Regions from separate parts of the Homo sapiens genome. Here all the other regions are linked to region 5. A link means that fine-mapping ties the variant in region 5 to the plasma level of a protein whose gene starts in the linked region. Region 5 holds a variant in brackets. A gene starts in each other region. All regions are shown on their forward strands.

Region 1 (4,063 bases), not on the chromosome of region 5:
GCCGAGTTGAGAAGGGATGCAAGGGAGGGGGCCAGAATGAGCCCTTAGGGCTCAGAGCCTCCATCCTGCCCCAAGATGTCTACAGCTTGTGCTCCTGGGGTGCTAGAGGCGCACAAGGAGGAAAGTTAGTGGCTTCCCTTCCATATCCCGTTCATCAGCCTAGAGCATGGAGCCCAGGTGAGGAGGCCTGCCTGGGAGGGGGCCCTGAGCCAGGAAATAAACATTTACTAACTGTACAAAGACCTTGTCCCTGCTGCTGGGGAGCCTGCCAAGTGGTGGAGACAGGACTAGTGCACGAATGATGGAAAGGGAGGGTTGGGGTGGGTGGGAGCCAGCCCTTTTCCTCATAAGGGCCTTAGGACACCATACCGATGGAACTGGGGGTACTGGGGAGGTAACCTAGCACCTCCACCAAACCACAGCAACATGTGCTGAGGATGGGGCTGACTAGGTAAGCTCCCTGGAGCGTTTTGGTTAAATTGAGGGAAATTGCTGCATTCCCATTCTCAGTCCATGCCTCCACAGAGGCTATGCCAGCTGTAGGCCAGACCCTGGCAAGATCTGGGTGGATAATCAGACTGACTGGTCCCACTCTTCCCACAGGCCTCAGAGCCCCAACTTTGTTCCCTGGGGCAGCCTGGAAATAGCCAGGTCAGAAACCAGCTAGGAATTTTTCCAAGCTGCTTCCTATATGCAAGAATGGGATGGGGCCTTTGGGAGCACTTAGGGAAGATGTGGAGAGTTGGAGGAAAAGGGGGCTTGGAGGTAAGGGAGGGGACTGGGGGAAGGATAGGGGAGAAGCTGTGAGCCTGGAGAAGTAGCCAAGGGATCCTGAGGGAATGGGGGAGCTGAGACGAAACCCCCATTTCTATTCAGAAGATGAGCTATGAGTCTGGGCTTGGGCTGATAGAAGCCTTGGCCCCTGGCCTGGTGGGAGCTCTGGGCAGCTGGCCTACAGACGTTCCTTAGTGCTGGCGGGTAGGTTTGAATCATCACGCAGGCCCTGGCCTCCACCCGCCCCCACCAGCCCCCTGGCCTCAGTTCCCTGGCAACATCTGGGGTTGGGGGGGCAGCAGGAACAAGGGCCTCTGTCTGCCCAGCTGCCTCCCCCTTTGGGTTTTGCCAGACTCCACAGTGCATACGTGGGCTCCAACAGGTCCTCTTCCCTCCCAGTCACTGACTAACCCCGGAACCACACAGCTTCCCGTTCTCAGCTCCACAAACTTGGTGCCAAATTCTTCTCCCCTGGGAAGCATCCCTGGACACTTCCCAAAGGACCCCAGTCACTCCAGCCTGTTGGCTGCCGCTCACTTTGATGTCTGCAGGCCAGATGAGGGCTCCAGATGGCACATTGTCAGAGGGACACACTGTGGCCCCTGTGCCCAGCCCTGGGCTCTCTGTACATGAAGCAACTCCAGTCCCAAATATGTAGCTGTTTGGGAGGTCAGAAATAGGGGGTCCAGGAGCAAACTCCCCCCACCCCCTTTCCAAAGCCCATTCCCTCTTTAGCCAGAGCCGGGGTGTGCAGACGGCAGTCACTAGGGGGCGCTCGGCCACCACAGGGAAGCTGGGTGAATGGAGCGAGCAGCGTCTTCGAGAGTGAGGACGTGTGTGTCTGTGTGGGTGAGTGAGTGTGTGCGTGTGGGGTTGAGGGCGTTGGAGCGGGGAGAAGGCCAGGGGTCACTCCAGGATTCCAATAGATCTGTGTGTCCCTCTCCCCACCCGTCCCTGTCCGGCTCTCCGCCTTCCCCTGCCCCCTTCAATATTCCTAGCAAAGAGGGAACGGCTCTCAGGCCCTGTCCGCACGTAACCTCACTTTCCTGCTCCCTCCTCGCCAATGCCCCGCGGGCGCGTGTCTCTGGACAGAGTTTCCGGGGGCGGATGGGTAATTTTCAGGCTGTGAACCTTGGTGGGGGTCGAGCTTCCCCTTCATTGCGGCGGGCTGCGGGCCAGGCTTCACTGAGCGTCCGCAGAGCCCGGGCCCGAGCCGCGTGTGGAAGGGCTGAGGCTCGCCTGTCCCCGCCCCCCGGGGCGGGCCGGGGGCGGGGTCCCGGCGGGGCGGAGCCATGCGCCCCCCCCTTTTTTTTTTAAAAGTCGGCTGGTAGCGGGGAGGATCGCGGAGGCTTGGGGCAGCCGGGTAGCTCGGAGGTCGTGGCGCTGGGGGCTAGCACCAGCGCTCTGTCGGGAGGCGCAGCGGTTAGGTGGACCGGTCAGCGGACTCACCGGCCAGGGCGCTCGGTGCTGGAATTTGATATTCATTGATCCGGGTTTTATCCCTCTTCTTTTTTCTTAAACATTTTTTTTTAAAACTGTATTGTTTCTCGTTTTAATTTATTTTTGCTTGCCATTCCCCACTTGAATCGGGCCGACGGCTTGGGGAGATTGCTCTACTTCCCCAAATCACTGTGGATTTTGGAAACCAGCAGAAAGAGGAAAGAGGTAGCAAGAGCTCCAGAGAGAAGTCGAGGAAGAGAGAGACGGGGTCAGAGAGAGCGCGCGGGCGTGCGAGCAGCGAAAGCGACAGGGGCAAAGTGAGTGACCTGCTTTTGGGGGTGACCGCCGGAGCGCGGCGTGAGCCCTCCCCCTTGGGATCCCGCAGCTGACCAGTCGCGCTGACGGACAGACAGACAGACACCGCCCCCAGCCCCAGCTACCACCTCCTCCCCGGCCGGCGGCGGACAGTGGACGCGGCGGCGAGCCGCGGGCAGGGGCCGGAGCCCGCGCCCGGAGGCGGGGTGGAGGGGGTCGGGGCTCGCGGCGTCGCACTGAAACTTTTCGTCCAACTTCTGGGCTGTTCTCGCTTCGGAGGAGCCGTGGTCCGCGCGGGGGAAGCCGAGCCGAGCGGAGCCGCGAGAAGTGCTAGCTCGGGCCGGGAGGAGCCGCAGCCGGAGGAGGGGGAGGAGGAAGAAGAGAAGGAAGAGGAGAGGGGGCCGCAGTGGCGACTCGGCGCTCGGAAGCCGGGCTCATGGACGGGTGAGGCGGCGGTGTGCGCAGACAGTGCTCCAGCCGCGCGCGCTCCCCAGGCCCTGGCCCGGGCCTCGGGCCGGGGAGGAAGAGTAGCTCGCCGAGGCGCCGAGGAGAGCGGGCCGCCCCACAGCCCGAGCCGGAGAGGGAGCGCGAGCCGCGCCGGCCCCGGTCGGGCCTCCGAAACCATGAACTTTCTGCTGTCTTGGGTGCATTGGAGCCTTGCCTTGCTGCTCTACCTCCACCATGCCAAGGTAAGCGGTCGTGCCCTGCTGGCGCCGCGGGCCGCTGCGAGCGCCTCTCCCGGCTGGGGACGTGCGTGCGAGCGCGCGCGTGGGGGCTCCGTGCCCCACGCGGGTCCATGGGCACCAGGCGTGCGGCGTCCCCCTCTGTCGTCTTAGGTGCAGGGGGAGGGGGCGCGCGCGCTAGGTGGGAGGGTACCCGGAGAGAGGCTCACCGCCCACGCGGGCCCTGCCCACCCACCGGAGTCACCGCACGTACGATCTGGGCCGACCAGCCGAGGGCGGGAGCCGGAGGAGGAGGCCGAGGGGGCTGGGCTTGCGTTGCCGCTGCCGGCTGAAGTTTGCTCCCGGCCGCTGGTCCCGGACGAACTGGAAGTCTGAGCAGCGGGGGCGGGAGCCAGAGACCAGTGGGCAGGGGGTGCTCGGACCTTGGACCGCGGGAGGGCAGAGAGCGTGGAGGGGGCAGGGCGCAGGAGGGAGAGGGGGCTTGCTGTCACTGCCACTCGGTCTCTTCAGCCCTCGCCGCGAGTTTGGGAAAAGTTTTGGGGTGGATTGCTGCGGGGACCCCCCCTCCCTGCTGGGCCACCTGCGCCGCGCCAACCCCGCCCGTCCCCGCTCGCGTCCCGCTCGGTGCCCGCCCTCCCCCGCCCGGCCGGGTGCGCGCGGCGCGGAGCCGATTACATCAGCCCGGGCCTGGCCGGCCGCGTGTTCCCGGAGCCTCGGCTGCCCGAATGGGGAGCCCAGAGTGGCGAGCGGCACCCCTCCCCCCGCCAGCCCTCCGCGGGAAGGTGACCTCTCGAGGTAGCCCCAGCCCGGGGATCCAGAGAACCATCCCTACCCCTTCCTACTGTCTCCAG
Region 2 (4,063 bases), not on the chromosome of region 5:
GCGCAGACACACACACGCGCACACACATCTCACTCACACACTCGCCCCACCCCGGGCTCCGGCCCAGCCGCGGCCCTAGCGCCGACTAAGACGCCCAAATCCAGCCGGCGGCCGGGAGAAGAAGCCTCCAGGGAAAGCGAGGGTTAAACTTCCACCTCGCGCAGCTCTCCGTGCCCTGCGGAGACCACCCTCACCTCTGGCCTCCCCCACTCCCCTCCCCGATTTTTAAGGAGAGTCGGGGGTCGCTGGGGAGCCTGAAGCACTAAGTTCCCACGACGGGGGCTGTGGAAAGTCATTCATCACAGCAAAGCTCCCGGGGATGGGGATGGGGATGGGGATGGGGGGGCGGGGACGCCGCGGTGGGAGGGTGCGGACGCCTGGCCCAGCCCCAGCTCGCCTCGCTCAGCCACCTGTAAGCAGGCCCGGGCGGGCGGGACTGCGCCGGCCCTGAGCCCCGCCGGGCTTGGGGACTGGGAACCGAGGGCTGCAGCTTGGCGCTGCCCACCCTGCCCGGCCAGGGGCTTCCGCAGCAGCCGCCCCTACCTATTTATCCGCCGCCCTTCTCTCCTCCCCAGGCTCCGCCGGCTCACACACACCCCCTTCCCCGCTCCCCGCACCCCGCTGCTGCAGCGCCCGCTGCGCCCCAGCTCCCCTTCCCCGGAGAGGACACTGCGCCCCCCGAAGTTTCTGCCCACTCGTCCACCTCGCTGCTCCCCGGTCCCCCCGAGGCAGAGCGACCGACGCAACACGCTGGAAACTCCCCACACACACTTAGGCATGGCAGAAAATAGAACCCAGTTGGGAAAATCTAAACATCGACCACCCTGGCAGGAACCAAAACGCTCTCTGCAGAGCCCGTGGCGCCCCAGCCGGCGGGGGGTGTGCGCCGGAGGAGCCGGCGCAGGGACGGGGCGCGGGGGCGGCACCAACCTCGGCCAGAACATGGGCGAGGTATCCGCAGCCGAGGAGCAGCAGGCAAGCCAAGGTCCTCATCGCGTCCCGAGGCGCTGGCTGCTCGGAGGAGAGGCGAGGCCGCGGGGCGGGCGCTCCAGCCGGTCTCCTGTGGCGGCGAAATTCAGTACCATCCCTTAGGGAGCGCGGCCCGGAGGAGGGTGGCGCGGGGAGCACGGAGCTGGCGGAGCGCGCCCGGCGCGAGCAGTGAGTGCGGAGAGGCAGGCAGCGCCAGCCAGGAGGAGGAGAAACAGGGAGTGCGCGCCCGCAGCGCGGGGAGCCTCCTGGGCCGCCGGGTAGGGGGTGGGGACGGAAGGGGCGGAGGGCGGGGGCTGGGCTTCTTCCTCGGTGCGTTCCCGGTGCTGGCCGCCGCCGCGCTCGCTCCCCGCGCTGGCTTCAGGAGCGACCCGGCCGGTAATTCTGCATATTTGCGGACATCAGCCCCAAGAAGAACTCCGGAGGGAGTCTGGGGCCGCCGCCGCCGCCGCCGCCACACCGATCACCTGCCTGGACGCCTGGCCCGGCCCCGGCTGCGAGCTGCGAGCCGCCCTGCGCGCCCACCGCCGGCCCCGCGCTCGCCTCCGGCCTCCTCTTGCAGCCGCCGCCCGGCCGGGCACAGCGCGGCCCAGCACCCCCTCCGCGGCGCGCCCTCGGCTCCGGCGCCGCGCTCCGCCCTCCGCTCGCCGGGGCCGGGCAGCGCCCGCGGCCGAGCCGCCTGGCAGCCACCACCCGCCGCCCGGGGCCTCGCTGCGCCGCCCGCGCGGGCCTGAGGGCGGGCGCAAGGCCGAGTCGGCGCCTCCGCCGCAGCCGCCGCCGGGAGAGGAGGAGGAGGAGTAGGCGCAGGCCCGGCTCGCCGGAGTTGGGCGGGCTCCGCAGGGCGCGCGTGTGGAGCCGGCCGGCGGCGGGGAGAGGGTTATAGCGCCGCCGCCGCGCCCCTCCCCCGCCCCCGCCCCCGCCCCCCCCCCCCGCCTCCCCCGGATTCCGGGCCTGGGACCCGCACCTCGGAAGCGCTCGGGGTTCGTGCGGACCCGGCAGGGCCCGGGCGCCGCCGCCGCGGCAGGGAGCACACACGCGCTCGCGCAAGCAGCTAAATCCATCAAAGCCCCGCGCCCGGCTCCGCGCCGGGGCTCCGCGCCCCTCCCTCGAGCTTGCCCACCCTCCAGTGCCAGCTGCAATCCTGCGGCACCGGGTGGGGAGGGAGGAGGCCGCCGCAGAAGCGCCGCCGTCGCCGGCTCGCCTCTCTCGGGCCCCAGCGGCGGCAGCGGGCAGCGCCCAGAGCTGCTGCGCCAAAAAGGGCCAGAGAGCCGGTCCCCGCCCCCGCCCCGGCGCTCCGGCCGCTCTCCACGGTTCGGATCCAGGGCCCCAGCCTTCCTCTCTCCATAAAAGGAGGGGGAGTCAGTCTTTGGGGAAGGAGGGGGGCGGGTTTGGGGCACTCACCTGGCGGCTGCCACGCGCCCCCGCCCAGGATCCGAGGCCTGGGGCATCTGAATGAGGACCCTCCACCCACATTTCCACTTGGGAGCGAGCTCCAGTCGGGGAAAGGGCCTGCAGCCCGCCTCGTCCCCACCCTGGGACCCCGCGCCCCCCAGTCCCCCACTCCCGCGCCGAAGGCAGGGCCGCGCCCTGAGCCGGGAAGTCGAGGGGATGGAAGGGAAAGGAGCCACCGGTGAGGGTCCCCCGGGTTCTGAGCCTCCCGCGTCGGGATCCGTGGGGCGCACAGAGCGCCACCTCCGGCCGAGGCGCAGCTCAGAGCGCGATGCGGGGGAGGAACGCGCGCGGAGGCCGAGGTCTGAGCGTGGCTAGACGGCTCCCACGCCGAGAAAGGGCGGGTGCGCCTGGGCTGGATGGATTTCGCCTCCCTAGACCAGGAGGGATTGGACCCTGACTACAGGTCCAGGTGCTCGTCAGTGCCCTGCCAGGGGGTCTACGCGTCCTGGTACCGGGTCCAGCGGGGTGGCGTGCTGTGCAGACCCCGAGGCTAGACGGCCTAGGCCCCTGGAGCCCAGGAGACGCTTCCTTGGGTGAGCAGCGGAGAATCCCGCCCGGCCCAGCCGTCACCCCCAACCCTGTCGATTAAACCCCTGCCCCCGTCGCGGTCGCCCTCCCTCCAGACAAAGGCCGTTAAGGCGCAGCCCCGCGGGCGGTCTTTCATCCCCAGCTAGGCCAGCTCTAGCATTTCAAAGGCCGAATCCGGAGAGCGCTTCGGGGGCTCTCCCCTTCCCCCAAATATTTGGGGAGCGACGCCTCTCCCTCCGCTCCCAGTGGGTCGCGTCTACACGCGCCCTTCCACACACCTGCAGGCCCCCTCCCCACGTCTCTCCCTTCCGTTGGCCGCAGCCCCACACCACGACCCCCGCGGTCAAGCATGCCCTCTGGGTGGTCAGGACCAAGCGGGACCGGGACAGAACCAGGGGAGCCTTGGAAACGTGGAGGAGCCCCTTAAAGCCAGGCCTTGTCCCTCCAGGGGGAACTTGCGGCTTGGGAGGGGACACCCACTGCATGGCTTCTGGAAAGAGCCGGACTCGCAGGGCCAGGACGCAGGCCGGACCCCGGCCTCATTCTTCGGCCAGTTATCCCGGAGTGGCGCGCATCCTGTCTTCCTGGGCCTCGGACTGCTCGCGCGCAGAGGGGGCCCGAGGACACCTCTGTGGGGTTAGAGGACTCGGTAAGACGGTGTGGAAGGCAAGGAGGAAGGTCGCGTTGTATTGGGGATGGGGTACCCGTCCCTCCCAGCTTGAGGGATCCTGGGGGTCCTCGCCGCCTCTGAGGGCCTAGATGGCTGCTTCCCTCGGCTCCCCTGCCCGGCCTGGAGCTACGGGTGCGCCCAGCTAGAGTTTAGGGCCACCTGGGGACGTGCAAGGGGCGCTGGAGCGAGGCGGGGGCTGGGGCGGGGCGTGGGTGCTTCACCCGCGGGGGACGCAGAGCTTAGGCGAAAGCGGTGCAGGCATCTCTCTAATCGCCGGCCGCTATTAAAAATAAAACCGCGACCCGTCGCCATGGCGACCACAACAACAGCGGCCGCGCGAGGGAGGCGAAAACTTGTGCAGCCGCGCGACAGCCGCCTTCTGGGGAGACTCGGGGCACGACGCACCCGGCGTGGGACTGGGACCCC
Region 3 (4,063 bases), not on the chromosome of region 5:
GTTGCTCCTGCGCTAGGCAAGCAAGGGGCGTGCCGGTGCCCATGAGGCCAAGAGCTGTGCTGGTAAAGTGCCCCAGGGGCTGCAAGTCTGGGCTGGGCCCCTGGAGAGGAAGTACCTGTTTCTTGTTTCTCAGCGGGGTCGAGGGTCCCTGCTGGAGTGGGGGTCACAAGGGGCCCGGCAGTCACCAGTGGGGTGGGGCGAGTTAGAGTTAGCTTCTTCCGCTTCTTCATAATGACCTTTTTCTTCTTGATGACTCGAATCCGGACATGCTGTTCTGAGGTCCCTTGGGGTCCGAGAGGCACAGCATGGGGGAAAGGAAGAATGGTGAAACCCCGGATGGAAAGGTCTGCCAGCCCAAGAAGACATGTGAGCCCACAGCAGGCCACACCACCAGGATCTAACAGCCTTCACAGGACATCAAAGGCCTGCAATCTGACCCCAACCTGCCTCTCCAGTCACTTCCTTGGCTCCTCCTTCTCCTCCCTGATGTAACTACATGCTTGGCCAGCCTCCCCTGTGAACCTCTAATCCAATGGAGAGCTGCACCCAGCCTCTAGAAACTGTTCGGTTGCTCCAAAGAGCTGAGTCTGGCACTTTACCTCCGGGCCTCTGCACTAGCTATCCCCTCCCCTGTAATGCTACCCCTCGCCTCTGATTTTTTCACCTAATTCCCATTCTTCCTTTGCATCTCAGCCCAGATGCCTTTCCAAGGAGGCTTTCTTAGCTCCAGACTCAGCATCATGCCCCAAAACCCCTGTGCCGCTTCCATTGTTGTGTCTGCTCTCTGGGCTCAGATGGCCTGTCCTGGAATCCATGTCTGCCTGGGTGTCGAGGCTTTCAGGGCTGGGCCTGCCCGCCGGCCCTTCAGCACAAGGCTCTGCCCAGGCAGGTGCTGGGGGTACCCATCGAAGCTCCACAGCTGCCTCCAGAACAGGCTGCCCATTTCCGCATCTGGTGCCCCTGTGCCTTTGCCCGCCGCTTCCTTCTTGGCAGCCCTCTCTCTCTCTCTCTCTCCAGACTCCCCTGACTCGGGGACATCACCCTTCAAGACCCTCCTCCACTTGCCTCCTCTAGAAGCCCCTGAGTGCCCTCCGCTTGCGCTCCTCCTCTCCTATTCCACATCTGGAAAGCTGGGAGGTCGGGCTGCCTTCCTCTCCCGCTCTGCCCCATCCTCCCGGCAGCCTCAGCGAGGGGCTCTCCCTTCTTTCCTTTTGTTCTTTCTCTCCAGCCCTCGCCTTCAAACTCTCTCCTACGCAGTCTTGCTCTGCACCTTGAGAGCTTCTGCCCCTCTGTCTCCCCTCCTGCCAGTTCTGGCCTGTTTTGTCTTTGGTGAAAAGGGAAGGTTTGGGGCTTGGAAGAGGCAGCATCCCACTGGCGCCTGTCCTGGGACTGCTGACTAGGTCTGGCAGGGAACTGGGGCTGCCGAGTCAGCAGCCATTGCTCCCAGCAGGGAGTTGAGGGAGTGTGAGTGTGTATATGTGTGTGTGCACTGTGAGTGTGAGTGTGCGCGCGCGTGCACTGTGTGTGCGCGCACGCGCGTGTGAGTGTGCGTGTGTGTGCATGCGTGTGAATGCGCGCGCGTGTGAGTGCAAGTGTGCGCGTGTGTGAATGTGTGTGAGTGCGCGCGCGTGTGTGCGCGTGAGTGCGAGTGTGCGTGCGGGGTGAGTGTGCATGACTGTGAGTGTGCGTGGGTGTGCGTGTGCCCGCGTGTTAGGGAGGGATCGCCCCACGGGGCAGGAGAGCCGGGCAGTCGGCTTGCGGGGGAGCGGACCGTCGGTCGGGGAACTCACCGTTAGCTGTCTCCGCCGGCGGCTGTGCCGGGCTGCTATGCAGGGCCGGGGTCGAGCCTGGGACCTTGGTGGTCCCGGGCTGCGCGAGGCCCAGCACCGAGTTCCTGGGCGCCCCCAGAGCCGGGCCGACGGCCGGCGCGAAGGCGGCCAGGGCGAGCAGGAGCCCCCACATGGCGGGGATTGAGTGCCAGGGGCGCGCGGGCTACGGCGGGTGGCGGGTCGGTCTCTTCCTGCCGAGTGCGCCGAGCCCCCCGCCCCTTCCTGCCCCCCGCCCCTCCGCAGCCTCCTGCCCGCCCACAGCCCGCTGCCCGCCTCGGACCTCGGAGAGGAGGAGAGGGCCGGGAGGAGCGAGCGGGGCTGACCTCCAAGGGGCCGCCCCAAGTCTCAGGACCGCCGACTCTGCCCTTCCTCTCCGCCGTCTGGGGCCAACCCGCCTCGTTGGCGCGCTGCGCCTTTATAGTCTGCAAAGCCACACTGAAGAGACCAGAGATCACCTGGTGGCCATCAAGTCGACCAACAGGAGGCAAAGCCCCTTATCTGAGCAATTCAGAATGACACTTCCCTATTGTCTAAAGCCACATCTGGTACCAAGCTTCCGTCCCAAGAATTTATAAGTAACTAGAATTTCTGTACGTTTCCGGAATGAGTGCACGTTAAGACCCATTGTGCAAACTTTGCTGACATCAAGGCACCAAAATATCGACAAATGTAACCATTTACCATGACCTAAGTGACTAATGTGGTCCAAATTACCCTGCAGTTCCCCGCAGGGAGCTCAGTCCTCTCTTGCTGAAGCGCCTACTGCGCTCTGCTGCCTCGTCCTTTCCGTCTAATAAAACTTTCCTTTTCAGACCTACACGGTTGTTGATAAGTTCTTTTACCACCCGGGAGCCAACCACTTCCCGGTTCCGGAGCTCTGACACCTCGCCTGGCATCTTGGTGGCCCATACGGGGACTTCACTGGGATTTCCCTCTTCCTTTTTCTCTCTGCTTCCTTCCACGGTCTGGTTCTTTACTCTTTGGGGAACTGCCGGTCCCGGTGGAGGCAGCTCTTCTGTGGGATCCTGAAGCCCTAGAGAAGGGATACCTGGCTGTCCTTGCCCTTAGGGGTGAGGGACTGGCCAGGGCTCTTTTCTGTTTTCGGACTGCCAGTGAACCAGCTTGAGTTCTCGTTGGCAACTGACAGTTTCTGGCCAAGCGCCATCCCCCGGTATTACCCCAAGGCCAAGACAAAAGAGCTATTGCCTGTCAGAGTGGCAGGGCACTTTCATTTTAACACTCCATAAGCCTTGTCCTGGAAGCGGTGGATCTCAATTCTACACAGGGATGCCTCAGGGATCTTGTAGTTCCTTGTCTAAACCCAACTTCGGTTCAATTAATTCAGTTCCATCCAACTCGCCCTTGGATTGCCTCCTTAAAAATGGTCCCATTGGTCTCATTTTGACCCACAAACTCTTAAAAATAAGCATATAAGGCTGAGCACAATGGCTTATGCCTGTAACCCCAGCACTTTGGGAGGCCAAGGCAGGCAGATCACCTGAGGTCCGGAGTTAAAGACCGGGAGTCTACTAAAAATGCAAAACTTGGCCGGGCACAGTGACTCACACCTGTAATCCTAGCACTTTGGGAGGCCGAGGCGAGTGGATCACCTGAGGTCAGGAGTTCGAGATCAGCCTGGCCAACATGGCGAAACCCTGTCTCTACTAAAAATACAAAAAAAAAAAAAAAATCAGCCAGGGGGCTAATTATATGTGGCGGGCACATATAATCCCAGCTACTAGGGAGGCTGAGGCAGGAGAATCACTTGTACCCCGGGGGCGGAGGTTGCAGTGGGCCAAGATGGCGCCACAGCACTCCAGCCTGGGCGACACAGCAAGACTCTGTCTCAAAAAATACAAATAAAAAATAAATAAGAGTTTAAAAAGCATATCCTTTTTTCTAATATTGCTTGGGTTCAATACAAGCTCCCTAATCAATCAATTTGGCCAATTAATGAAACTTGGGATTGCAATGCTACTTTACAACTTAACTGATTTTTTGCCGGAACCTTGGAAAGGATTCAGAAGTCCCATATGTTCAGGTCTTTTTTGCTTTATCCCCAAATCCAAACCCAAAATTACATACAAATTGTCATGTATGCTTCCAAGGAACGTCCTCCCTTCCCGGTTCTGATGTCTTAGATGATCCTTCCTTTTGCCTATTACATCCTCCTCAACCTGCTCACTCTTCACCTACACCCTCTCCATCTGCTCCATTCCCTAGTCAATCTCCCA
Region 4 (4,063 bases), not on the chromosome of region 5:
TTTATTCTTCAGGTTGGGAGGCTCCAACCCATCCATAGCCTTAGGTTCTCTTTGTGGAGAGCACGAACCGAGCATCCACCACCCTAAACTCCAGCTTAGATCCCAGTTCCTTGTCCACTGACCTAGGTCCTACAGGGTGGAGTGCAGTGGCTCGATCTCGGCTCACTGTAATCTCAAACTCCTGGGGTCAAGCAATCCCTCCTCCTCAGCTAAGTAGCAAGGACTACAGGTGTATGCCATCACGCCCAGCTAATTTTTTTATTTTTAGCTTTTGTACAGATGGGGTCTCGCTATGTTGCCCAGGCTGGGTCCTACCTTCTACCCTCCATTTAGGTGTGATCACAGAAAATGTCTCTCCCTGTGAGGAAAATTTGCCCTCTCCTCCCCAGCTACAAGACAGGGTTGTGGCCTAGCTTTGCTGCACCAAAAGAACACATGAATGTATTACAGAGTAGAATATGGCACTTAGGGATTCCTTGAAGGGCAGAAGCAGGACCAGAGCGGGGTCACACAGCACCTCTGCAGTAAATCTGGCAAGGCTTGGCAGGCCAGTCCTCACAGTGTTTCTAGGGACACTGGAACCCCGAGAGTCCCCCAGAGGCCCCATTCCTAGCAACTGGCAACCAAAGCCCATTATTCCTGCATGAACCCCTCCTGACCACACTGGCAGGGGCAACATGGTGGCCAACCTGGGGGAGCTGGCCAAGCTTCGAGACCTGCCCAAGCTGCGAGCGTTGGTGCTGCTTGATAACCCATGCACGGACGAAACCAGCTACCGCCAGGAGGCCCTGGTGCAGATGCCATACCTTGAACGCCTGGACAAGGAATTCTATGAGGAGGAGGAACGGGCTGAGGCTGATGTGATTCGACAGAGGCTGAAGGAAGAAAAGGAGCAGGAGCCTGAGCCCCAGCGTGACCTGGAACCCGAACAGTCATTGATCTAGCAGCAGTTCTAGCCTCTAAAGATAGTAAGGAAGCCTGCAGGGAGGCAGTGGGAGGAGGCCAAGGGCTGGGCAGGTAGGGGAAGAGGCAAGAGGGGAAGCTGCTGCAGAAGGAGGTGGGAGAGGAAAGCATCAGACAAGCAGGACCCTTAAAGAGAGGAGGGTTAGGAGTCAGGGAGAGGAAAAGGGACCCAAGGGGCCTGGGACCAGCTGAGAAAGACTTAGGAGGCCAGAAGAGTAAGTGAAAAGAATTGGGGTGGCAGGCAGAGGAGTTGGTGGGGGGTGGGGCAGCCATACCTGACACAGAGTGAAGTCGGCTAGGAAAGGACAGGTGTGGGTGCATGGTAGGGGCTGCAGGGGAAAGTTGGTGGTGTATGCAGCTGGACCTAGGAGAGAAGCAGGAGAGGAAGATCCAGCACAAAAAATCTGAAGCTAAAAACAGGACACAGAGATGGGGGAAGAAAAGAGGGCAGAGTGAGGCAAAAAGAGACTGAAGAGATGAGGGTGGCCGCCAGGCACTTTAGATAGGGGAGAGGCTTTATTTACCTCTGTTTGTTTTTTTTTTTTTTTTTTTTTTTTTTTTGCGAGGTAGTCTTGCTTAGTCTCCAGGCTGGAGTGCAGTGGCACAATCTCAGCTCACTGCAACTTCCACCTCCTGGGTTCAAGCAATTCTCCTGCCTCAGCCTCCCGAGTAGCTGGGACTACAGGCGCATGCAACCGCGCCTGGCTAATTTTTGTATTTTTAGTAGAAACGGGGTTTCACCACGTTAGCCAGGATGGTCTGGATCTCCTGACCTCGTGATCTGCCCGCCTCCGCCTTCCAAAGTGCTGGGATTACAGGGGTGAGCCACAGCGCCTGGTCCCTATTTACTTCTGTCTTCTACCTCCAGGAGATCAAAGACGCTGGCCTTCAGACCTGATCAGACTCCCAGGGGCAGCCACCACATGTATGACAGAGAACAGAGGATGCCTGTTTTTGCCCCAAAGCTGGAAATTCATCACAACCTGAGGCCCAGGATCTGCTCTGTGCCGGTCCTCTGGGCAGTGTGGGGTGCAGAATGGGGTGCCTAGGCCTGAGCGTTGCCTGGAGCCTAGGCCGGGGGCCGCCCTCGGGCAGGCGTGGGTGAGAGCCAAGACCGCGTGGGCCGCGGGGTGCTGGTAGGAGTGGTTGGAGAGACTTGCGAAGGCGGCTGGGGTGTTCGGATTTCCAATAAAGAAACAGAGTGATGCTCCTGTGTCTGACCGGGTTTGTGAGACATTGAGGCTGTCTTGGGCTTCACTGGCAGTGTGGGCCTTCGTACCCGGGCTACAGGGGTGCGGCTCTGCCTGTTACTGTCGAGTGGGTCGGGCCGTGGGTATGAGCGCTTGTGTGCGCTGGGGCCAGGTCGTGGGTGCCCCCACCCTTCCCCCATCCTCCTCCCTTCCCCACTCCACCCTCGTCGGTCCCCCACCCGCGCTCGTACGTGCGCCTCCGCCGGCAGCTCCTGACTCATCGGGGGCTCCGGGTCACATGCGCCCGCGCGGCCCTATAGGCGCCTCCTCCGCCCGCCGCCCGGGAGCCGCAGCCGCCGCCGCCACTGCCACTCCCGCTCTCTCAGCGCCGCCGTCGCCACCGCCACCGCCACCGCCACTACCACCGTCTGAGTCTGCAGTCCCGAGGTGAAGCCCCCGCCAGGCCCAGAGCCCCTGTGGCCCCCTCCCTTCGCCGCGGCGCCCCTGCCTCCTTTACCCGGTGCCGCTGCGCACCTCTCCGCATCTCTGGCCCGGTGCAGCTGCGCACCTGCTCCGCCGCCCGCGCCCAGGGCGCCTTCCCTCCCTGGCCTTCCCCGCCCGCTGCCTTCGCTTTCTGGCCCTCTGCGCGCCTATCTCTAACTGCGCCTCTCCACCCTTGCCTGCCTCTCTCCCGGTGCTCGCCCTCATCTACGGTTCTATTTGTTTCTAAGTTGGGAGCCTCTCCGGGCGGTGCATTTTTATCCTAGAGCGTCCCTTTTGGTTTGCATTTGGGGAAATGTCTTCTCTCACCGTTCCTCACCTCCCCCAGACTTCCCTTGGACTCCCCTCTCTCCTGCTCTTCCCCACGGCGCCCCTCTCCGTTCGCGCTTCCTCCCCTCTGCTGCACGGGGGAGAGATGGAAGAAGTGGGGATCTGTCGAGGCGCAGAGGGGAGGACAGGCCCAGCTCGCCTCCACTCCCCACCGGCTCTTATCCTCTTCACTTCCCGCTGCAACCCCCAGGGACTGCAGGGCCTTTCTCAGGACCCTCTTCCCCGACACCTGTATTGCATGCGCCTTTCGCGGGAAGAGGAGGGATACACGTTTGGGAGAGAGTGGGACCTTGGGGAAGGGGCAGTGTTCAGGCAGCTGGGGTGTTAAGTTGGGGAGGTATGGGGGCTCTGGAAGAGAGGCCCAGGCAGCCCATCCTCTTCTTGGCTCCCAGGAGAAATGCAAGCCTGGCAGCCATTCCGCTCTGAGGAGATCTGGGGGAACCCCACCGGCTGGCCAAGCTGCAAAGAGGCGCGGGAACCACTGTCGTGCCCCTCCCCTCCTCACTGCAGTGTTCTCCCATCTCATCATTTGATCTTACCCCGCCCCCCACTGCAGTGACCTCCCCTTCCTCACTGCATTGACCTTCTCCTCTTCCCAGGGGGGAGGGGGAATCCCTTCTACAGCCCTAGACTGCAGCCAGCGCCTCCCTACCCACCCCCCACCCACTGCAGTAACCTCTTTCCCATCCCTCCCAGCCTCCCGCCCCGCCCATTGATCTCAGGCTCCACCCCTCTAAGCCTCTTATCTTTCTCCTTCCTTCCCTTCCACCCGAGGAGATCCCAGCCATCATGTCCATAGAGAAGATCTGGGCCCGGGAGATCCTGGACTCCCGCGGGAACCCCACAGTGGAGGTGGATCTCTATACTGCCAAAGGTAATGGGTGTGGCATGGGCCTTCCTACAGCCCTAGCTTTTCCACGGCCAGGCTGGGTTCGGCCAGGGGTTCGGAGGCCTTTTTTGATACCCAGGGGTATGGGGTGCTGGGCCAGGCTCACAAGCCTGGGTTGTGGCGGTTGGATCCTCCTTGTCCGGGGAGCCAGGGTAGGTGGGTCTGTGTTCGAGTTTAGCGTGTGAGGCAT
Region 5 (4,063 bases):
TACTTACAACATAATAGTAAACTCATCGCAACCTGTTAAATTCAACAAATGAAATTTGACAGAGAAATCTCATTTTATTCTGTTCAATCAGAATAAAATGTATTATTTTCCCACAGGGTATTTGTGATACTGAATTTTTTTTAAAAAAATGAAATATACATATAAAGGGCACTATAGATATTTTGTTGACCTAATAATGAAATAATGCATGTATCAAATTGCATCTTAAAAGTTTTAAGATAGTCATCTTTATAGAAATGTGGTTAAGGAAAAAATTAGAAGTTCCTGATCTACCTGCTTATAATTAGAATTATTAATTGCCTCCATTTATCCCTTTGCAGTTTTATCTTTTCCAGTATTCATCTTTTATCTTAATAATTGCTAGTCTTCAAGCTTCATATTGTACATATCCTGTAGCAAATATATCTCTACCTATGTCTCCAGCATTCACCTCTATAGGCAAAGGCTGCTCAGTGGGCACACCTGTGACTTTTCTACCTGAGCACTTTTTTCCAGCGTTAAGAGCAAACTCCTTGCAAGCTGGGAAAGCTGGAAGTGCTGGAGATTTCCTATTCCCAAAGGTTATCCTCAACCAATGATGGACAGAAAGTTGGTGGACTAACACCTCCGCTTCCCTTCCTCTTGGTTAGGATATAAGATGTGTTCTATATTGTCTGTTAGAGTTTGGCAGTGGAATTGAGCTCTGATTGCCTTGATAGTGAACATTTTGTGGACCTCTTCCCTTTCCTGCTTACTTCGCCACAACCTTACTGGAATTTTCTGGGATCAACTTCCCAGTAAACTACTTGTATTTGAATCAGTCTCAGGGTAAGCCTCTGGGGAATCCATACTAAGACAGCCTCTAAGATGTAATAATGAAATAAATTTAAAAGCAATATCCAAATTATTATTGAGATTCTAGAGGACATAGAATTATTTAATCTTTATTATTCAATTTTGGACCTCTACTACTGGTACATAATCGGTATTCAATAACTGCTCTTTAAAATAAAAATCTAATCGAATTGAATTTGCTTATCAGGAACATTCTCACTGACTCCACCCATATTCTCCATCTTTCCCATCTCAATGGCATAATTTATAATTTTGCTGAGGCATGACTTTTTGTTGAGCCTCAGATTTCATTGATGTTGACATTGTGAATGATATCTTCCTTCTTAATATTCATTTTAATCTGGGCTCAGGACTACCATACTTTCCTATTTCTCATATCTCTCTGGGTCTTAGCTCTTTTTAATTTAACTGTGAGTGTTTCCCAAAACACTTCTGGCCTTTCTTCTCTTCTCCCTCTGTTCCCAGTGCCTCAGGGAGCTTATCCACTTGCAAAGCTTCAGCTACTAATTTACAAATGACATTTAAATAAAAAAATCTCTAACCTTGGCTTTTTACCCTTTCTCTAATAGCACATTTCAACTGTTTTGCAAGCTTTCCCATTTAATTCCTCCAACTACACAGTCACAAAGAGAGTTTATTCCTGTCTCCACAGACAGCCTCTCTTTTCCATGACTTCCAGCTTTCAGTCACCTTTAATCCTAGTCCTCTGCCTCTCCTTTCGTACCTCTGCAGGGAGTCCATTCTCTCAATTATCCTGTGTCTTTTCTGCATTTCTACCTCTCCTTCTCACATCTCAAATGCTATTCACACACAGTTACACATACCCATACCTCTCTCCTTTTGCCTGTAACTACTACCATCTCTTTTTCCTTCTATTCAGAGTCAAACATCTTCCAAGACTCTCCATTTCATGTCCAGAAACCAAGCATCATAACTCCTGCTTTCGTAATGATTGTTCTCCTCTTTCTGTCCTGCTACCACTGCTTTAGTCGAAAGCCCCACCGCTTCTCTCTTGATTATTACAATATTCTTCTGTTCTCTCTTGTCATCTTTTTATTTACTCAGACCACAGTATGTCCTGAAAGCAAAACTACAGTAGTCACTTAACTCCTGTGCTTTAAAATCATTCTAAAGGGCACGAGAATACCCCAAGGTTTTGGTAAAGCCTAAAAAAGGCCTTCCTGTTACTCACCTCCCCAGGTGATGCTCACCTCCCCAGTTCTGACCCCTTTTCCACTCTCTTATAGACTTTAGGCATTCTGAACTACATGCAGTGCCCTGAATGTCCATTTTTTTTCCACATCCGTACATTTGGTCATGCTGTTTTATCCTCCTGGAAACCCCTATTCCCCCCTCCCCACCTATCTCTCTTCATCTCACTAAGTCCAATACTTATTTAAAGACTCTGCTCAAAGTCACTTCCAAGGTAGACCTTCTCTGAAGCCTCCTGTCTGGAATAGATAACCACTCTTGGAGTATTTCCCTGGTGCTCTAGGTTTACTAGGATAAGAGCACTGATCACATAACTGTGAGCTCCTGTTTGCTTGTCTATCTCCCCTGCAGACCATATGCTTATTATCTATTTTTTATCTTTCTATCCTTCCCACTTAGAACAATGTCTAGCTTATACTAAGAGCTCAATGAATAACATTGAATGAATCAGCACATT[A/T]ATTTTTTCCTTTCACTTTTCTCCATATCAGGAACAGCTGCACACCCCTCCTTATTCAAGACCCTGCATCCTTCCTGAGGCTTTACATCCATGTCTGTTTCGTCTGTGATCTTGCTTCATCTGCCTAACTCAGCAGAGCAATTACCACAGGAAATGCTATCTTGTACCTGTTTTATTTGTTTATAGACTTGCACTTTTATTTTAGTCTCGTTTGAGAGGAAACTTCAGTAGGACAAGATAACTATGTCTATTTCTTCAGTTTTTATCTCATAAGGAGATATGCCCATGATGGTTTCTTGAGAAAAGTTGACTAATTTCGGTGTAAGATTTGCAACCCTTGGATGCAGCTAGGAGGATGAGGTGTTGCGCCTAGTGAGGCAATTATGATTTGTTTACAACAGACTCAGTTTTAGATCCCTCACTATGACATGGGTGAAGGCCAAGAAGGTGTTCTGCTCTACCATGCTTTCTGTGAAGTCTCATCCAGCCTCACACGTTCCAGTGACAAACCATCTGGGAAATTCCATCTGTCTCTGCTTGGAAACTGAGGTGGCAGTCGCCCACTGTGAGCAATTTTCTATTAACTTCTTGGATAAGATCAGTCAGATTTATACTGAATTGATGGGAACCGTAAGAGCAAGATTGTTCCAAGAGAAGACAAATGTACTGATTCCTCTAATTGGGCTTAAGCCAGTTTCATTCACAGACGCCCTTAGGTTCTAGTAGTGCAAGGACTTATAACCTTTTTAATTGTACCCTGTTCCTCTTGGGAAACATTGGTGAAATTCATTATTGATGGAGGTTGTAGATTTGTCCCTTAGGGAGGGCAAGATCCTGGCTTCTCTTATACTCTATCTGCTATGTGGAGAATTAATGGAAACTGAGTGGACAGAAAAGCTGCTCAAAGAAGACTTGAAGGCAAGAAATGTAATGCAGCAGAGCCTTGGAAAGTGATGCGTTGGTTTGGTTTCTAGAATTAGGGTAGGGTTTTTGTTGTTTTATTGATTTTTATTTTTATTTATTTTTTTTTTGATGGAGGGGGATTACTCAGGGAAAGAGGAGAAAGAAGTTTGTGTGGAGGCCTCAGTAATCAAAGGCCTGCTATTGAATGTGAGTCAGAAAGGAAGAAATTAAACACCGAAGAATTATTTCACAATTGAAATATGTAGAAGCCAGAGAGGTCAATTGCATATTAATCTGAAGGGATTTGCTGTGTTATAATGCAGATATAGTTATGATGTTGGCAGTGGATGAAAATACATTGTCATATGGCACAATGGTATTGAAATGAAAACCTGAATTTGTGCCCTTCCTGATAATTTTTACTTGCCTCCAAAATAATACCTTTTGTGTATAGCTAGCCTGTTAACCTCAATCTCATCCTGACTTACTTTTTCTCCTGATGGTGAAGTCTTTCCAGGTTCTTTACATTTGGACTTGGATTTGAAAGGTGGAAACACAATTCCTTGCTATACATAGACAATTTTATTTATGGACCTAACTTACTCTCCTCTGCCTGAAATTTTAATACATTTTGGC
Region 6 (4,063 bases), not on the chromosome of region 5:
AAGAATGAACTGTTTTGTAAACCAGAAAAAAAGTTTTATGTATCACATGTTATGCTCTCTTGGTATTTCATTATACTCCAGTCTTTAACAAAAAGGTGCAGAGGAGGGGAAAAAAGGGTGCTCTGGGAAATGAAGAGATGTATTTAAGAAGAATAAAGGTATCATCCTCACTAAATTGCAGATTGGAATTTCTACGTGTTAGGGGGGTGTTAGTCAATTGCGGGGAGCTTGACTGCTGGGTGATCAGGCCCAGATCCTGGAAGTCCCACTGTATGTTTTTTCTTTTGGACCTGTTACTCCAGGGGGGAACCCCCATCTGTCCTTTCTTGGGGAGAGGTTGGGGAATATGCTGGCTACAGCAATAGAAGAGGCCTCAGGTCCTCACATTTCAGTAAATGGACATCTACTTCATACCCATGTTCAGTAACCGCCCCCCCCCACCCCACACCCCAGCAAGCTAAGACTGGGGTCCTGTGATCTGGAGCCCTATGGTTCAGCATTTCTCTGGAACAATCTTCCTATCCCCCAACTAGTTGCTGCCTAGTATCAGCTTCCTATCCTTAAGGGGAAGGGCAGAAAGTAAGGATTCTTCCCCACCAGAAAATTGTAGTGCCAGAAGGAAAAGGAGAGGTTAACTATGATCCAAAGAAACAGAAAACCGGTGAATGGCTACCAAATGCTCACCATGTCCTAGAAAGAAACAATTCGTTTGAAACGTCAAACACTTACTATGGGTCAAACACTGAGAAGCTCTTACCATATCATCAAATCCTCGGGCAATAATCCTTGAGGCAAGCTTGAGAAATTCCATTCTACAGCTGAAGAAATCAAGGTTGGTGTGGCCAAGAGATATGGAAAAACCAAGTCACTCATCTTTGCCAGAGCTGAGAGTCAAGCCAGGATGGTCTGTCCATCTCTTAACCAGTACACTACCCATTAAATTAGCGCTGGCAACTATAGTGTGGGCTCAGGGAGGACAGCATCTAGGTATTTGACACAGAGGTGAGATAATGGTGATCTTTCCCTCTATCTGGGCTGGTCAAGATGTGGCCATCTCTGGAGGCTCCCAGGGCCTAAATAAGAGGCCTAGAAGACCTGGGATTGTCCCTGTAGCTCCCCATCTTGGAGTCAGCCTGCATTCATGGGGCAGGAGCCCTGAACCTGCATCAGGTTCCTTCTTTCTCAGGTAAGGAAAAAACTTAGAGCTGATAAGGCAGCACCACATTTTGCAGCCCCATTTTGGAGAGACATCTTTTTATTAGGACTTTGTAAGTCACTGCAGTAGTCTCCTAGGTCTCATTTATTGAATATTTAGATTTTTATTCCTGTTCTGTGACGCCCTTTTCATCTGCCTAAAAAAAAAAAAAGAAAAGAAAAAAGAAAAAGAAAAGAAAAGAAAGAGAAATCTTCCTAACACAGTCTTAAATACAGAAGGCTATGCACAATCTTACTTGTCCTACACTGCACAGCAAATCAAGCACTCACAGGCCTTCAGGTGCACCTGCCTGGTTTCCCTCCTCTTGGCTAGGGAAGTACTGGGGCAAGTGGGCAGTTTCTTTTTCAAATTTCCACTTATACCTGACCTTAGGTGGTGCCTATTCAACACTTACAGAATGAATGAAACAAAAAGGCTCATTTAGAGTGGGCGCTAAACAATGTGTACACATGGACTTAGTGGAATAGTAGACACTGGAGACTCCAAAAGGTGGGAGGGTGGGAGAGGGATGAGGGATGAGAAATTACCTATTAGATACAATGTACAACATTCGGGTGACAGTTACACTAAGAGCCCAGATGCCACCACAATGCAATATACCCATGGAACAGAACTGCACTTGTAACCCCTAAATCTATTTTTTAAATGATACCCCCCAAAAAGCAGTTTGGGGTCTGAGAGTAAGGGAGGGAGAGGGAGAATGAGAGGCGGGAAGTGGGGTGGGGAGAGACAGGCGGGGAGGTTCCGGTGTGAAGTTGTTTCCGCGCAAAAGAAGGAGAGCGGCTGGCGGGGCAGACATAGGTGTCAGGAGGACAGGAAAGGGGACAGGACCAGGAGGCTGGCGCTTACCCCAGGAGGATGAGGAACCGCGGGTCCGTGGCCAGGTTGGCGTCAATGGTGACGGACAGGAACGAGGGGCTCACCAGGTGCAGCGGCTCCTGGGTGAAGAAGTCCAGGTCCACGACGTCCTGTGCTTGCGCAGGTCGGGGCAGGGCGCCAGGGGAGAGGGGACCCAGCGGCCCCAGGAGCAGCAGCATCAGCGGCGGCGGCAGCGCAGGCTTCGAGCGCAGCAGCATCTTGGGCTCACCTGGCTGCTCCCCCCGCCAGCTGCCGCGCAGCGGAGAGTCGAGAGCTCTAGCACTTCCTCCCGCCGAGCCCCAGCGCCCTTTTCTCCTTTCCTCCGCCCCGTTACGCCTCCTCACCCCTCCCACTGCGCCCTCCATCCCTCCCACTCCTCTTCTGCATCCCTCCCACTGCTCCCAATCCAACCCCGCCCCGCCTGCCCGGCTCTCTCCTACTTCCTTGCTCGCTTTCCCCTCGGTGGCGGTCACGTTCACTTACGAAATCACCCACACCCACTTGAAGGGTGCGGAGATGGCCGGGATCCAAGCGCCCGGGAGGCCTGGGGAGGAGCGCCCGGGGAGGAGCGCCCGGGGAGCAGCGCTGGGCATCCCGGACCAGGCTTCCTGACGCACGTGTTCTGCGCGCTCTCGTGGGAACCCAGCGTTTCCGACTCCCAGATCCCATTCTGATGGCGCCGGGTATCCCTCTGACCCTCGAGTAAAACCTCCAATGGAGTATTCATCCCTTCCTCTCCCATCTAGCTTATAAACACTTGCTTGTCACTTGAGCCAGCCAAAATCTGATTGTCCTCTGGCCAGGCAGTTTCTCAGGTATTTTACTTTTGCTTGAAAAAATCTGGCCTCAGCATACGCTAAACTGCAGCTGGAAAGAGATCAACCACCCAAAATTCTTTATCAACTTCTCATTAAGACAATATTTAGCAATCTTAAAGGGTTAGTTGCTCCAATGTCTGGAACTCAGGACCTGAAGCCCCCATACAAAGTGTAGAGTACGGACTGCCCCTGAATTTGGAGCCTTTGCCAAATTTCTCCTCTGCGCATTTATCTTTCGCTGTTGGTCAGACTTTTCTTCAGCTTTTCCTTGATGCTTACACTGATGTATAATCATAGCAAGCATCGCACGCTTAGTGCCTACTGTATGCCTGATACAGGTGCTTTACTTGTGTTCTCTTCCCTTCTCACAACCCTGCCAAGTGCATACTGTCCTTGTTTTACACATGCGGACCCAAGCTCTGAGACAGTAACTGGGTGAAGTGTCAGAATCGGGATGTGAAGTGTCAGAATCGGGATGTGAATGCAGTTACAAAACCTCGAGCAGATGGCAGTGTGTTTCAGCTGAAATGTAACTTCCCTCAAGGAAGCTTTCTCTCAATCTCCAGGCAGCTCTCCATGACACACTCTCATAGCATCCTCAATTTGTTAGACACTCTCGTAGCATCCTCAATTTGTTAGACACTCTCGTAGCATCCTCAATTTGTTAGTATTGTGATGTTGCTCAACATTGGCTTCATCTACTAGATTATATGCTCCACCAAAACAGAGATTAAGTTTGTCTCACACGCTATGCTAGCCATAGCTCAGGCATGTGATCATGTTGGTGCTTAGTAAGAGTCTAATAAATATTGGTTGAGTAAGCAAATAACACCAAAACCCTTAGATTTTTCCACTTGAGATTGTACCACCAATAAGGCAACAAATAAAAATAGATTATTTTGAAATGCATATCTAATTTGCATAAATCAGGCCAGGCATGGTATGTGATGCCAGTGATGCCATCATGCCTGTGATGCCAGCATTTTGGGAGGCCAAGGTGGGAGGATTGCTTGAGCCGAGGAATTCAAGAACAGCCTGGGCAACATGATGAAACCCCATCTCTACAAAAAATACAAAAAATTAGCCAGGCGTGGTGGCCCGTGCCTGTGGTTCCAGCTACTGGGGAGGCTGAGGTGGGAGGTTTATTTGAGCCTGGGAGGTGGAGGTTGCA
Region 7 (4,063 bases), not on the chromosome of region 5:
TGGAAGTTTTTCTTTCATCCCTACTTCCCAGCCAAGACCTTCCCGTCTGGGGGCCACTCATCCCACATATATCCTTCCTCCAGGCTTTTGACCATGCGGTTCCCTCCACTAGCTGTTCCACCCTCCATTACCCCGCTAGGTCCTTCCTTAGCCCCCTGCAATTTTCCACACTGCTTATCACACTGATTTGCTTGTGCAACTCCAATTTGCCTCCCTAGACTAATAACAAGAAGTCCCATTTGGGAGTACTTAAGGTGTGCCAGGCACTGTGACATACATTAATTAACCCATCTGACCATGAACCTCACCCGATGGAGTAGCTGCTATCATGATCCCCTCTGAGCAGCAGGGGGCTGGAGAAGGAAGGGGCCCAGCTCAGGCCCAAACAGCTACTAAGTGGTAGGGCTCTGATTTCAACTCAAGGAAATGGAGCCAGCAACTGGGCTTTTAAAGTATTCTGCCATTTGCTTAATCTGATTTATTCACCGTCCATCCCTAACACTTGCTCTGCACCTGGCACATAGGAGATGCCCAATTAACATTTGTTCAGAGAATGAATGAATGCATGCTCCCAGCTCCTTTCCCCGTCTGCTTCCTCTGAGGGGTTGGTGTATGGGTGCAAATACAGGCCGGGGACTGAGGCTTATGGGAGGACCCAAGAGGATGTATTTACTGCATGTGGAGGGTTCTGAAAATGAGGACTGGGGCTGGGTAGGCTTTGGGTGGAGAGGGCTTTGGTCAATTCCAGTGGTTCCTTGTTGCTTTGGGGTCGTGGACTCCTTTGAATGTTTGATGAATACCTCAACTTTGTCCCCGGACAAAAATAATGCTCTCTTTAACTTTGGAGACAATGTTAAGGGATTTGAGGACCCCCTGCTAGCACAGATTAAGACCCTCTGGTCAAGCTGATTCCCGAACACATTCTGTAAGGCGGAGCTAGTTGGGATAAGCACATCCCTCCCCCAGCCTCCTCCAGGAAGGCTGTGCATATTCTGGGGTGCCCCCTGTTCACCAGGGGTGAGGCCAGACATCTGGACCACATCTGTGGCTTTAAACACTCCCCCAGGGCTGGCAGCTGGACTCATGCCTTCCTGGAGATATTCTCATTCTCTCTCTCTCCCTGCTTCACCCTCTCCCTCTGTTCCTCCTCTCTTCCCTGTCTTTGCCTCTCTATCTGTTTCTTACTTCTCTCCCTCTTTCTGCCTATCTGCCTGTCTGTTTCTCTCCCTCTCTGTTCCTCTCTCCCCCACTATCTCTCCCTCATTGTATCTTTGCTTATCTCTCTATCTGTCCTTTTTAATTATATTTACTTCTCTCTCTATTTCTGTCTTTTCTCACTCTCTCCCCTCTCCCTCTCCCTCCCTTTCTTCCTCTCTCCACTTCCGTCTTTATCTCCATGGCCCTGCTCTCTGACTCTCATGGCACTGCTATCTCTGCCTCCCTCTCTCTGTCTCCCTTTTCTCTTCCCCTCCCCTTCAGCTCTCAGCTGGGCTGTGGGTTCCCTCTTACCTGGGGACTTGCTACTTCCTGCTGGAGGACAGGCAGGCGGGCAGGTGCTATGGGTGACTAGAGTCCGACCCCCCATTTTATAGTCTGGCAGACATCAGGCCCTATAGTCTGTGGCACAAAGGGGAAGCTGGCTCAGCAGGCCTGGGCAGGGAGTGGGGGACTGGGGCCCTGACCTCGCCTGGATCACTGCAGACAGCAGCACTTTCCTTTGTGAGACCAGCACACACAGCAGAAACCCTGGCCACAGCAGCTTCACCTTCCAACCCTACCCTGACTCCTTTCTCAACAACCCCAGCCAGGGATGGGCCCCCAAAAGGGTCCCTGCTGGCTGCCAACATGGGGCAGGGAAAAGGGGAGACCCTGGGAGGCAGGAGACCAGAGTTTGAATCCTGACTCAGCCACTGCGCGCTGTGTGGCTTTTGGTAGGTCTCTACCCCTAGGGGGGCCTCTGTGTCTGCAATTATAAGGTGGGCACGTGTCCCTGTTGGATGCCATATAGAAAAGAAGGTGACAATGAGCACAGAAGCGTTTTGTAAAGGCAGATGTGGGTTTGATATGGACAGCCTTTTTTACGGAGTGCTTACTGTGTGCCGAACCCGTGTTATCTCGGTCAGTCCCCGGGACAATCTGCCTTATTTGGTACTTTCATTATGCCCATTTCACAGAAGAGGAAAGTGAAGGCACAGAGAGGTCAGAGCCAGCCCAGGCCAGCCAGCTCTGGGCCTGTGTGCTTTCTTCTCCTGCTGTCCAGCCTTGACCTTGGCCTGAGGCCCCCTGGCCTGACTTCCTCTTTGTAGGTTGGGGTGGGAATGGGAGAGTCGCACTGTGCTCAGCTGGGTTGGATATCGGAGACCTGGGTCTTTTTCTTTTCCCCACATTGGGCCCCATCCTTTCCTGACCTATCGACAGTGATCCCTCTCGCCACCCCAGTTCCCCGCCTCTACCCAGGCCACGTTATCTGACCTGGAGGACAGTGCTGGTGGCCAGAAATATGACTGCCTGTCCCAGAGCCTCCTGCCCTGGCAAGCCCCAGATGCCCACCACATCTTGTTCACCACTGGCCCCAGCACCTAGCTGGGCCTGGCTAGGTAGAGCTTGGCACATCATGGGTTCTCAGTCAATAACTGGTGACTCAATGGTGGTTCCAATGGATCGGAACAGAAGGTAGGGTACGGAGGAGATAGGGAAACCAAGGCAAGGAGAGAGAAGTAAGGAGGCAGATAGAAGTAACAGACAAAGAGAGAGGTGGAGACAGAGACACAGAGAGGCACAGGGGACATGGACAGTGAAGGAGCGAGAGACGGAGAGACAGAGGTCAAGTTGGGGTGATCAAGCCTCAGGACGGAGGAACAGACGCCAGAAATCACAGGGCCCAATCCTCCCATTTCACAAATGGAGAAACCGAGGCCCAGGTGGAACAAATGACTTCAACATAGTCACATGGCGGGAACTCACAGTACAGCTGGGGTCAGAAGGAGCCTGGGGAGCTGCTCAGCTAGGTCACCTGCAGTCGGCTCCCCAGTCCCAGGCAGGGTATATTGCGGGGGCATCTGGATAGGCTCCTGTCTCTTCTTTTTCGGGGTTCTAGGCTCCCCGTGGAGCCCAGCTCTGTCTTGAACTCTCCCTGGCCTGGAGCCAGCTTTGCCTCTGTCCCTCCACCACCCAGCACCCCCTCGCTTCCTAGCCTCTCCTTGGCCTTTCATCCTGGGCCAAGACTTGGTGGGTGGGGTGTGGGCAGGAACTGCAAGATGGGGTAGCCACTGGAACTGGGGCCAAGACGCCTGTGGTGAGGGCCCACCCACCAGTCTAGGCTTCAAAGCCAGGTCATCTGGGGCAGTTCCGTGCCCCCCCTAAAGCCCCAGGAATGGGCTGTCTGCCAGAGGGTGGGGGCAGAGAAGGGGGATGGCCCACCATGTTGGTGGCTCCACTCTGAGCATTTATTATTATTATTGTATCCTTCATTATATCTTTTTCTTTTTTGCCCTGTCTTATGGAGCCAATTTATTTTCTTTTCTTTTTTTCTTTTCTTTTTTTTTTTTTGCATTGTCCTGTACTCCTCAGTATAAGGATGAAGTCTCTGGGATTAACCCCAATTACGGATAAGGAAACTGAAGCAACTCCCTTTCCTTCCTCTCTCTCAGCCACTTTCTCATAAAAATGGAAATGTAAGATAAAATTGGAACTCACATCTTCTTTACTCATGAACCCAGGCTCTTAAAAACTATGCACCCCTGCTTTTTGATCAACAATTAATAATAATCATCTTTCTTATTAGCAATGGTGATGATGAAGATGATGGAAATACCACAATATTTTTTATGTTGCAGGAGCAATTCCAGCTGCTGTTCATGTGCTATTCACATTTATCCTCACAATCCCCCTGTTTCTTAGACTAATCCCAACTTACCTTGTTACACCCATTTTACACACAAGTAAACTGAGGCTCAGAGTGCGTAAGTAACATGCTTAAAAGTTACCCAGCCAGCACCAGTGGGATGCAAACCCAGGCAGTCTGGCTGTAGAGGGTGCATTGTTAACCTTTCATTTTCATGCC

Alleles and levels. Alleles are on the strand shown, and positions count from the first base shown. The strength of an association depends on the size of the effect and on how common the allele is.
For the plasma level of the protein whose gene starts at base 2,117 in region 1, A is the high allele of the variant in region 5 and T is the other (strong association).
For the plasma level of the protein whose gene starts at base 1,838 in region 2, T is the low allele of the variant in region 5 and A is the other (moderate association).
For the plasma level of the protein whose gene starts at base 2,017 in region 3, A is the high allele of the variant in region 5 and T is the other (moderate association).
As copies of T replace A in region 5, the plasma level of the protein whose gene starts at base 2,521 in region 4 goes down (moderate association).
For the plasma level of the protein whose gene starts at base 2,358 in region 6, A is the high allele of the variant in region 5 and T is the other (moderate association).
For the plasma level of the protein whose gene starts at base 1,560 in region 7, A is the high allele of the variant in region 5 and T is the other (moderate association).

What was found. PIP is the posterior inclusion probability: the model's chance that the variant is causal. Protein levels are from antibody-based Olink assays in UK Biobank. Linkage for the fine-mapping came from a reference panel and not from the study's own genotypes, which makes the PIPs less certain.
Region 1: it holds the start of VEGFA, and the variant in region 5 is fine-mapped to the plasma level of the VEGFA protein (UK Biobank, PIP above 0.99).
Region 2: it holds the start of PDGFA, and the variant in region 5 is fine-mapped to the plasma level of the PDGFA protein (UK Biobank, PIP above 0.99).
Region 3: it holds the start of CPXM1, and the variant in region 5 is fine-mapped to the plasma level of the CPXM1 protein (UK Biobank, PIP above 0.99).
Region 4: it holds the start of ENO2, and the variant in region 5 is fine-mapped to the plasma level of the ENO2 protein (UK Biobank, PIP above 0.99).
Region 6: HPSE starts here. The variant in region 5 is fine-mapped to the plasma level of the HPSE protein (UK Biobank, PIP above 0.99).
Region 7: CRYBB1 starts here. The variant in region 5 is fine-mapped to the plasma level of the CRYBB1 protein (UK Biobank, PIP above 0.99).

Annotation. Positions count from the first base shown.
Region 1 is chr6:43,768,095-43,772,157 of GRCh38, forward strand. It overlaps VEGFA (vascular endothelial growth factor A), which reads left to right and starts at 2,117. Exons shown (of 8, transcript NM_003376.6): 1 at 2,117-3,218. The coding sequence starts at 2,613. RefSeq lists silencers at 1,930-2,179, 2,557-3,496, 3,567-4,063 and enhancers at 2,542-3,307, 3,308-4,063.
Region 2 is chr7:518,009-522,071 of GRCh38, forward strand. PDGFA (platelet derived growth factor subunit A) reads right to left here and starts at 1,838. Exons shown (of 6, transcript NM_033023.5): 1 at 931-1,838. The coding sequence starts at 993. It overlaps PDGFA-DT (PDGFA divergent transcript), which reads left to right and starts at 2,383. Exons shown (of 3, transcript NR_033963.1): 1 at 2,383-4,063. RefSeq lists enhancers at 630-1,551, 3,396-4,063 and silencers at 808-897, 1,358-1,497, 1,778-1,867, 1,968-2,307, 3,973-4,052.
Region 3 is chr20:2,798,611-2,802,673 of GRCh38, forward strand. CPXM1 (carboxypeptidase X, M14 family member 1) reads right to left here and starts at 2,017. Exons shown (of 14, transcript NM_019609.5): 1 at 1,791-2,017; 2 at 116-283. The coding sequence starts at 1,962. RefSeq lists enhancers at 1-586, 587-1,574, 1,575-2,560.
Region 4 is chr12:6,912,060-6,916,122 of GRCh38, forward strand. It overlaps ENO2 (enolase 2), which reads left to right and starts at 2,521. Exons shown (of 12, transcript NM_001975.3): 1 at 2,521-2,600; 2 at 3,762-3,858. The coding sequence starts at 3,774. It overlaps LRRC23 (leucine rich repeat containing 23), which reads left to right. Exons shown (of 8, transcript NM_001135217.2): 7 at 671-968; 8 at 1,832-2,170. The coding sequence ends at 944. RefSeq lists enhancers at 1,924-1,993, 2,024-2,193, 2,872-3,513, 3,514-4,063 and silencers at 2,304-2,793, 2,325-2,515.
Region 5 is chr8:105,566,776-105,570,838 of GRCh38, forward strand. The region is part of intron 4 of ZFPM2 (zinc finger protein, FOG family member 2); the gene reads left to right. Among named protein-coding and RNA genes, the nearest start is that of ZFPM2, 250 kb to the left of the region's middle. The variant A/T (reference allele first, on the strand shown) is at 2,525.
Region 6 is chr4:83,332,491-83,336,553 of GRCh38, forward strand. HPSE (heparanase) reads right to left here and starts at 2,358. Exons shown (of 12, transcript NM_001098540.3): 1 at 2,066-2,358. The coding sequence starts at 2,292.
Region 7 is chr22:26,616,468-26,620,530 of GRCh38, forward strand. CRYBB1 (crystallin beta B1) reads right to left here and starts at 1,560. Exons shown (of 6, transcript NM_001887.4): 1 at 1,510-1,560. It also overlaps a transcript of CRYBA4 not described here. RefSeq lists enhancers at 614-1,291, 1,970-2,645.